Regions from separate parts of the Homo sapiens genome. Here region 1 is linked to region 2. The links come from fine-mapping of genetic effects on gene expression. A gene starts in region 2. The other region holds a variant in brackets. All regions are shown on one strand. Distances are between the middles of the regions. Region 1 overlaps TBL1X (transducin beta like 1 X-linked). Region 2 holds the start of TBL1X (transducin beta like 1 X-linked).

Region 1 (2,902 bases), 250 kb before region 2:
CAAAAGGTTAAAAAACAGAAAAGCAACAAGAACAAAGCAGACCCTTACATTTGACAAAGTGCACTTCACTTGGCTCCATGATCTATTTCTTAGAAAGACTAAACAAAAGTCAAGTCCTACGGTGTCGCGAGGGGTCAGAGGGTTTCACCCTGTAACGTCCGGCCCTTTTGGTCCCCCTTGGGGCAGCATCCCTTTCCCAGGTGTGTGCTGGACCTGACTCTCGGTCACTGTGAACCCGACCAAACACTCTAGGAAGGTCTGTCATGCTATGTCTGCTTTCAAGGTCACGTTTGGTCACTAAGACTTAGGCATTCCTCACCATGTTTTAAGAGCTGTAAACAACGTTGAACAATAACATTCCACAGGCCATTTCTTGATTACAGGGATGACTCTACCAACATGCCAGCAGCAGAGAGGGTGAGTAGTGGTGTGCAAATGCTGGAGGCTCTGAAAACGGCTGTCCATGGTGTTGTCCCGCTGAGAACGGGGATGGATATGAAGGGTGCTAGCTGCATCTCGCGCTTGGTTTTGCTTGCGGCCGCAGGCTGGGGAAGCCAGGGATGGAGCCTGGGGTCCGAGGCCTCCCAGCCCAGGTTTCTACCTAACAATTCCGACATGGTTCACATTCATCAAGACTAAAGCCATCCCTCGGGAGAGACCCTGGCTACCGACATTCATGTGAAGATTGTCTAGTGAATTGCTTGCGACACATCCCACCATCGCCATCCCACAGTTGTTACTGGTTTGTCAAGCATAAGCCATGCCCTAACGACAGGCTGGCCTTTGACAGCAGATGTTCTACAGAGATGAGTGCATTTTTATTTGGGTGGGGTAGAGATGGTGTCTTTTGGACCCCAACAAACTGTACTCTAAACTTCACAGAGTCCTTGGGACGGGAAATCATCACCTCATCCAGGGACACTGGCTATCTTCAAAGATGGGTGCGGCGACTCCACATCACTGTGACCTTCTTTGCTAAGTGTTTCGGAAACAGAACACGAATAAAATACTCATCTCAGAACCAGAGCACTTTTTGGTCTTCTGGGACATGAATAATTCACATACCCAAGTGGAGGCCAATCAATGATCTGAGAATGATCAACGCACCCTGGCTTTTGCAGGTGGTCCTGGCACGTTCCAAGTTCCACAGAAGCCCTGACCCTTCCCCGATGGCTGGGTTTTGGCTCCGCAGATGAATGCCACCTTCACAATAACACCGTCTCACTGCTGGAACACACACCAGATTGCACCCTACCCACTGCTGGTGACCCAGCAGCCCCCACGGGCTGGGCCATCTTCCTCAGCCCTTCTGCCCACA[G/C]GAAAACCAATGGGAGAAGAGGCCCTTGTCCTTTGGCCTTTTCCCCCTTGCTAATGACAAAAATAAGTCCGTGTCGGGTTATGACAGCAAGCAGATGGAGGTCACCAGATTCACTGAAATGAAGCTCTTCTAGGAACACAAAGCCTTGTTTAATTTTTTAAAAACAGCAAAAAGATTATTTAAAAAAGATCTTTCTCCTAGTCTTCTGTGAGACAAAGAAATTATAAAGATGGCAGAAATTATTAGCGACGTTCTACCTCTATAATTCACGTTCAGGACTGAAAATCTTCCTTCTGCATTCATTTCTGTCAGCGTTAGACTAAGTGACATGCGGGCGCCTCTATGTCAGCTCTGCAAGGACTCGCCAAGCCTGCTCTTGGAGAAATGACCATCGGTCGTTATACGGTTGTGGGAAAGATGTAGCCAACACGCCTAATCCAGCCGAGCAGTCGGTTTCGACGGCTTCTGCAGTACCTTATGGTTCTGCCAATGCTCCCTTGAGGCCAGAGGGCGCGCGGCTCTTCGCTGCTTTCCTGCTGGCTGCCAAGGTGCATACACACCAAAAGATGCGAGGTTCTTCTTCCAGCCGGCATGGCGGGGACCTCCCTCACTGGCTGCAGAGCAATCTCGCTGCTGACCCCGAAGACTGACCCTTGTCCAGCCAGAGTTTTCCTGACCACCTTTCCTGAGGCTGAGGGGAAAGCCAGGGGCTCCCTCAGGCCCTGCCTGTGGCTTCTTCGGTTCTTTTTAAAACATGAATCACACAAAGCTCTCTATGTCTGATGGCCATTTTAAGATTTTAAAATTGTTTTAACATAAAAATATTATTTTTTTTTCCAAAAATACTCCAGGCTCTTTCTCTTATAAGTCATTTTTTTTTCTCCTGTAAAAAGCCCCCCTGCCCTGCCTTCTTACATAAAGCACTTACTACGCGCCAAAGTGCCCTTGAGACCTAAGATCTGAAGCAACTATGAGAAAGGTACAGAGGGAGAGAGAGAGAGAAAGAGAGCACGCCAGTGAGAAAGCGAGCGCGAGCGCGAGCGCAAGGGGAGGAGAGGGTGGGAGAGGGCGGAAGGGGGAAAGCTGTCCGTGGGAGATTGTGTCTTCATGTCCACGGGGCTGCATCTCTTGATGGTGCACTGAAAAAGCAGAGCTCACCAGACAGAGTGGAAAGGCAGGGGGAGGGGCAGGGAGCAACAGAAGGAAGAGACAACAAGCCCAAGACAGCTTCCATCTCAGACGGAAGGCCCCCAGAAGATAGAATTCCAGCCGACTGAAAAACCACCCAATGAACAAAGAAGATTCTAGAAAATAGAAAGTGTTGGGATTACAAAGTTGCGCGTTTCATCGGTACAAACTGGTCTTTGAACCTCCTTTGTGAGAGCAATTGTAGTGTCCAAATTGTTAGGGAAAACAAAAAAAAAAAATCCCAAGGAGGAGGGTTTTTCCCCCTTCCCTGTTTGGTTTATCACAGCATTTTGCTTTTTTTTTGGCACAGCTTTTTACGTTTCTTTCCATTCAGCCATCACAGAGCCTGTTCCGGGTGGAAACCAATCCACACGCCTCGAGCTGGTGACTTCCTCC
Region 2 (2,902 bases):
CATACTCCACTCCGAGCACCGGTCCCATCGTTAGGGAAGGTCCCCCTGGATAGCAAGGCCGGGGCCCAGGATCTGCGAGACCCACCCCACCCGCCCCGTCAGAGCCCAGGAGCAGCAACAGGTCTGCGCTCTCCCCGGGCGGCGCTCTGCAGACCCTCGACGGGCCAAGGGTGCCCCCAGCCCAGCCGTGCGCTCAGGCCGGGGAGATGGGCGGAGGACTGGGGCTCCCGACTTCCTTGACAGTTTCTGCGCGTCAGAAACTGAGCAGACACGGGGCCCGCGCCACCTCGCCCGCCGCTTGCCCCACTCCGCGAGGCTGCGCTTCCACCCGGGTCCGGGAGGGCCGGCCCGCGTCCCGGGTATGAATGGGGCTCTTCTCCCCAACAGCGGGGAAATCCCGCCACCGCCCTCCACCCCGGTCCCCGGAGCCCGCGGTGGCGCAGGTTTGCCCAGCAAGCCCCTGAATCGGCAGACAAAGGGGCACCGGAGGAAAAGCCGAGCGCTTCCCTAAACTTACCGGCCACTTCCCCCTCCCCAAAACAAAGGAGCCCCCCGCCGACCTCCGTCTCTCCCCGCAAGGCGCGCCGGCACTTCGGGGAGCGGCCACCTCGGGGTATTGTTCAGGCTCCTGGGAGCGCGCCGCACCCCAGTCCGAGCGCCGCGGGGACAGTTGGCGACCTGCACCTACAGGAGTTCCAGGGGCGGGTGGAGCGTTCGGGCGCCCCGAGCCGCCGGCCGGACCCTGGAGGGTCAGCGCGGGACCCGCCTCCCCGCAGAAGTTTGCGGACCCCGCGCCCGGCCCGCCGAGCCCTGCGCACTCACCTCGTCGCGAGCAGCGCAACTTGTGGCGGCGCCGCGCGCCCGGCCGCGCTCCGAACCTCCCTCCAGCCGGCAGCCTCCGAGTCCCGGCCGTGCGGCGGCCGAAGAGGGCCCGGCGCCCCGGAGCAGCCGCGCGCCGCCCCCGGGCCGCCCCCGCCCCGCCGCCGCCGAGTCCCGGAGAGAGCGCGGGCGCTGGAAAGTTTCGGTGGCGAATGGCGGCCTGAGGGCGCTGCGGCGGCGGCGGGGCGGGGGCGCTGGCGGCTCCTCGCTCCCAAGCGCGGAGTGGGGGCGCTGAGGCGGGCGCGGCGGCGGCGGCGGCGGCAGCGGGAGAGGGCGGGACAGCGGGAGGGACTGGCACGGACAGTGACCTCCACGGGGAGCTGCCGCGAGCGCGCGGACCCCAGCCAGGAGGACCGCCAGGGGTCCGCCCCCGCCGCCGGCCCCTCCCTCACGGCCGTGGGAGGGGACCCGGCGTACCACCCGGCCCCGCCCCTGCGCCCCGGGGGAGCCGCGTCCCGAACCAGCCCCTCCCCTACGAGGGTAGGGACTCCGGCCCTGCCCCTCCCCCGCGGCTCCTAGTGGGGACCCGCGTCCCAACCCAGCCCCTGTCCCACGGTCGGGGGACCAGCGTCCCTACCAAGCCCGCCCCGCTCCCCCACGCCTAGGGTGGGTGAGGGGAACCCGGGCCTCTCCCTAGTTGCTCTGGTCCCGGTCCCTTCCCCGTGGCCTCCGTGGGACTGAGAGGACCCCAGGGCTACCCCCATCACATCCCAAACCCAGCCTTTCCACGACTGCCTCGAGGGGACGGGAACCTCGGCCACCCCCTCAGTTTCTAGGGGGCAGGGGAACCTCGATCACTGCTAAAGTGTTACCCTCCCCCACCCCAAAAAGGAAGCCACCCGGCTGCCCCAACAGAACCCCCTGCCACCTGCCCGATGGTGAATCTCCCTCAAAATCGGCGTCTTAGAAGACACCCCAGTAGTCTTTACCCCAGCTCAAAAAGTGGGGGTTCCGGCGGAGCCTCGACCTTTGCAAAACACCTCCCAAGAAGAGCCAGAAATGCTTAGGGACAAACTCAGACACACAGGCATAGGCGCCAGGAACTCGGGTGTGGGGGCTGAGGAGGTTGGGGGGACCTGGGCACTCGGGCCTCATCACTCCCACCCCAACCCCCCAGGCATCAGCCCTCTGGCCCTTGCAAAGTGCTTTATGTTGCAATGGCTTACACGGCCTGGCCCCGGTGTACCTAAGTCCCCAGCGCTCCTTCCTCCCCTCCACGTAGGCTACTCCCAACCACTCGCAGCCTTAATTCAGTTAAACAGATCTCCACTCCCCCTCCCCAGCACCTCTGGGGTCAGCCTCGTTGAATATTTTTCAAATATTCTTGCCCCTTCCTTTACTATATAATGAGCTTCGTGCTAAGAGCCCGGTACACTCAGCAATCTAAACTATAACCTCACTTGCTCTTCCTCGAACTCTAGACCATTTGTTGTTCTGGTTGTAGGGGGAGGGGGACCTAAGGTGAGGTTTTTGTTTTTTTGTTTTTGTTTTTGTTTTTCTGAGGAGTCTCGCTCTGTCGCCCAAGCTGGAGTGCAGTGGCGCGCTGTCGGCTCATTGCAACCTCCACCACCCTGGTTCAAGCAATTCCCCTGCCTCAGCCTCCCGAGTAGCTGGGATTACAGGCGCATGCCACCACGCCCAGCTAATTTTTTTTGTATTTTTAGTAGAGACGGGGTTTCACCATATTGGCCAGACTGGTCTGAACTCCTGACCTCAGGCAATCCGCCGGCCTCGGCCTCCCAAAGTGCTGGGATTACAGGCGTGAGCCACCGTGCCCGGCCGGAGGTGAGTTTTTAAGAGGCCGGTCCTCCACCAAAACGGCGGACCTCAAAATTACCCTGCAAAATATTGCTGTAAAACGTCAATGATGCAAAACGACTGTTGCTACACCATCATTAGAGGACATCAATAAAAAAATACACACTTACACAGTCTCCATAATTGTGAATCAGCAGAATAGATTGTGTCTTATTATGTATCAGTTGCCATTCAAGGCCCCCCAGAAGGACATGGTGGGGCCTTC

Evidence for each region.
Region 1: its variant is fine-mapped to the expression of TBL1X in whole blood (TOPMed, PIP above 0.99).

The regions. Positions count from the first base shown.
Region 1 is chrX:9,716,503-9,719,404 of GRCh38, reverse strand. TBL1X (transducin beta like 1 X-linked) reads right to left here. Exons shown (of 18, transcript NM_005647.4): 18 at 1-2,902. Among named protein-coding and RNA genes, the nearest start is that of GPR143, 48 kb to the left of the region's middle. The variant G/C (reference allele first, on the strand shown) is at 1,319.
Region 2 is chrX:9,463,368-9,466,269 of GRCh38, reverse strand. TBL1X (transducin beta like 1 X-linked) reads right to left here and starts at 1,212. Exons shown (of 18, transcript NM_005647.4): 1 at 823-1,212. RefSeq lists silencers at 237-386, 687-826, 947-1,526 and enhancers at 1,757-1,956, 1,784-2,612.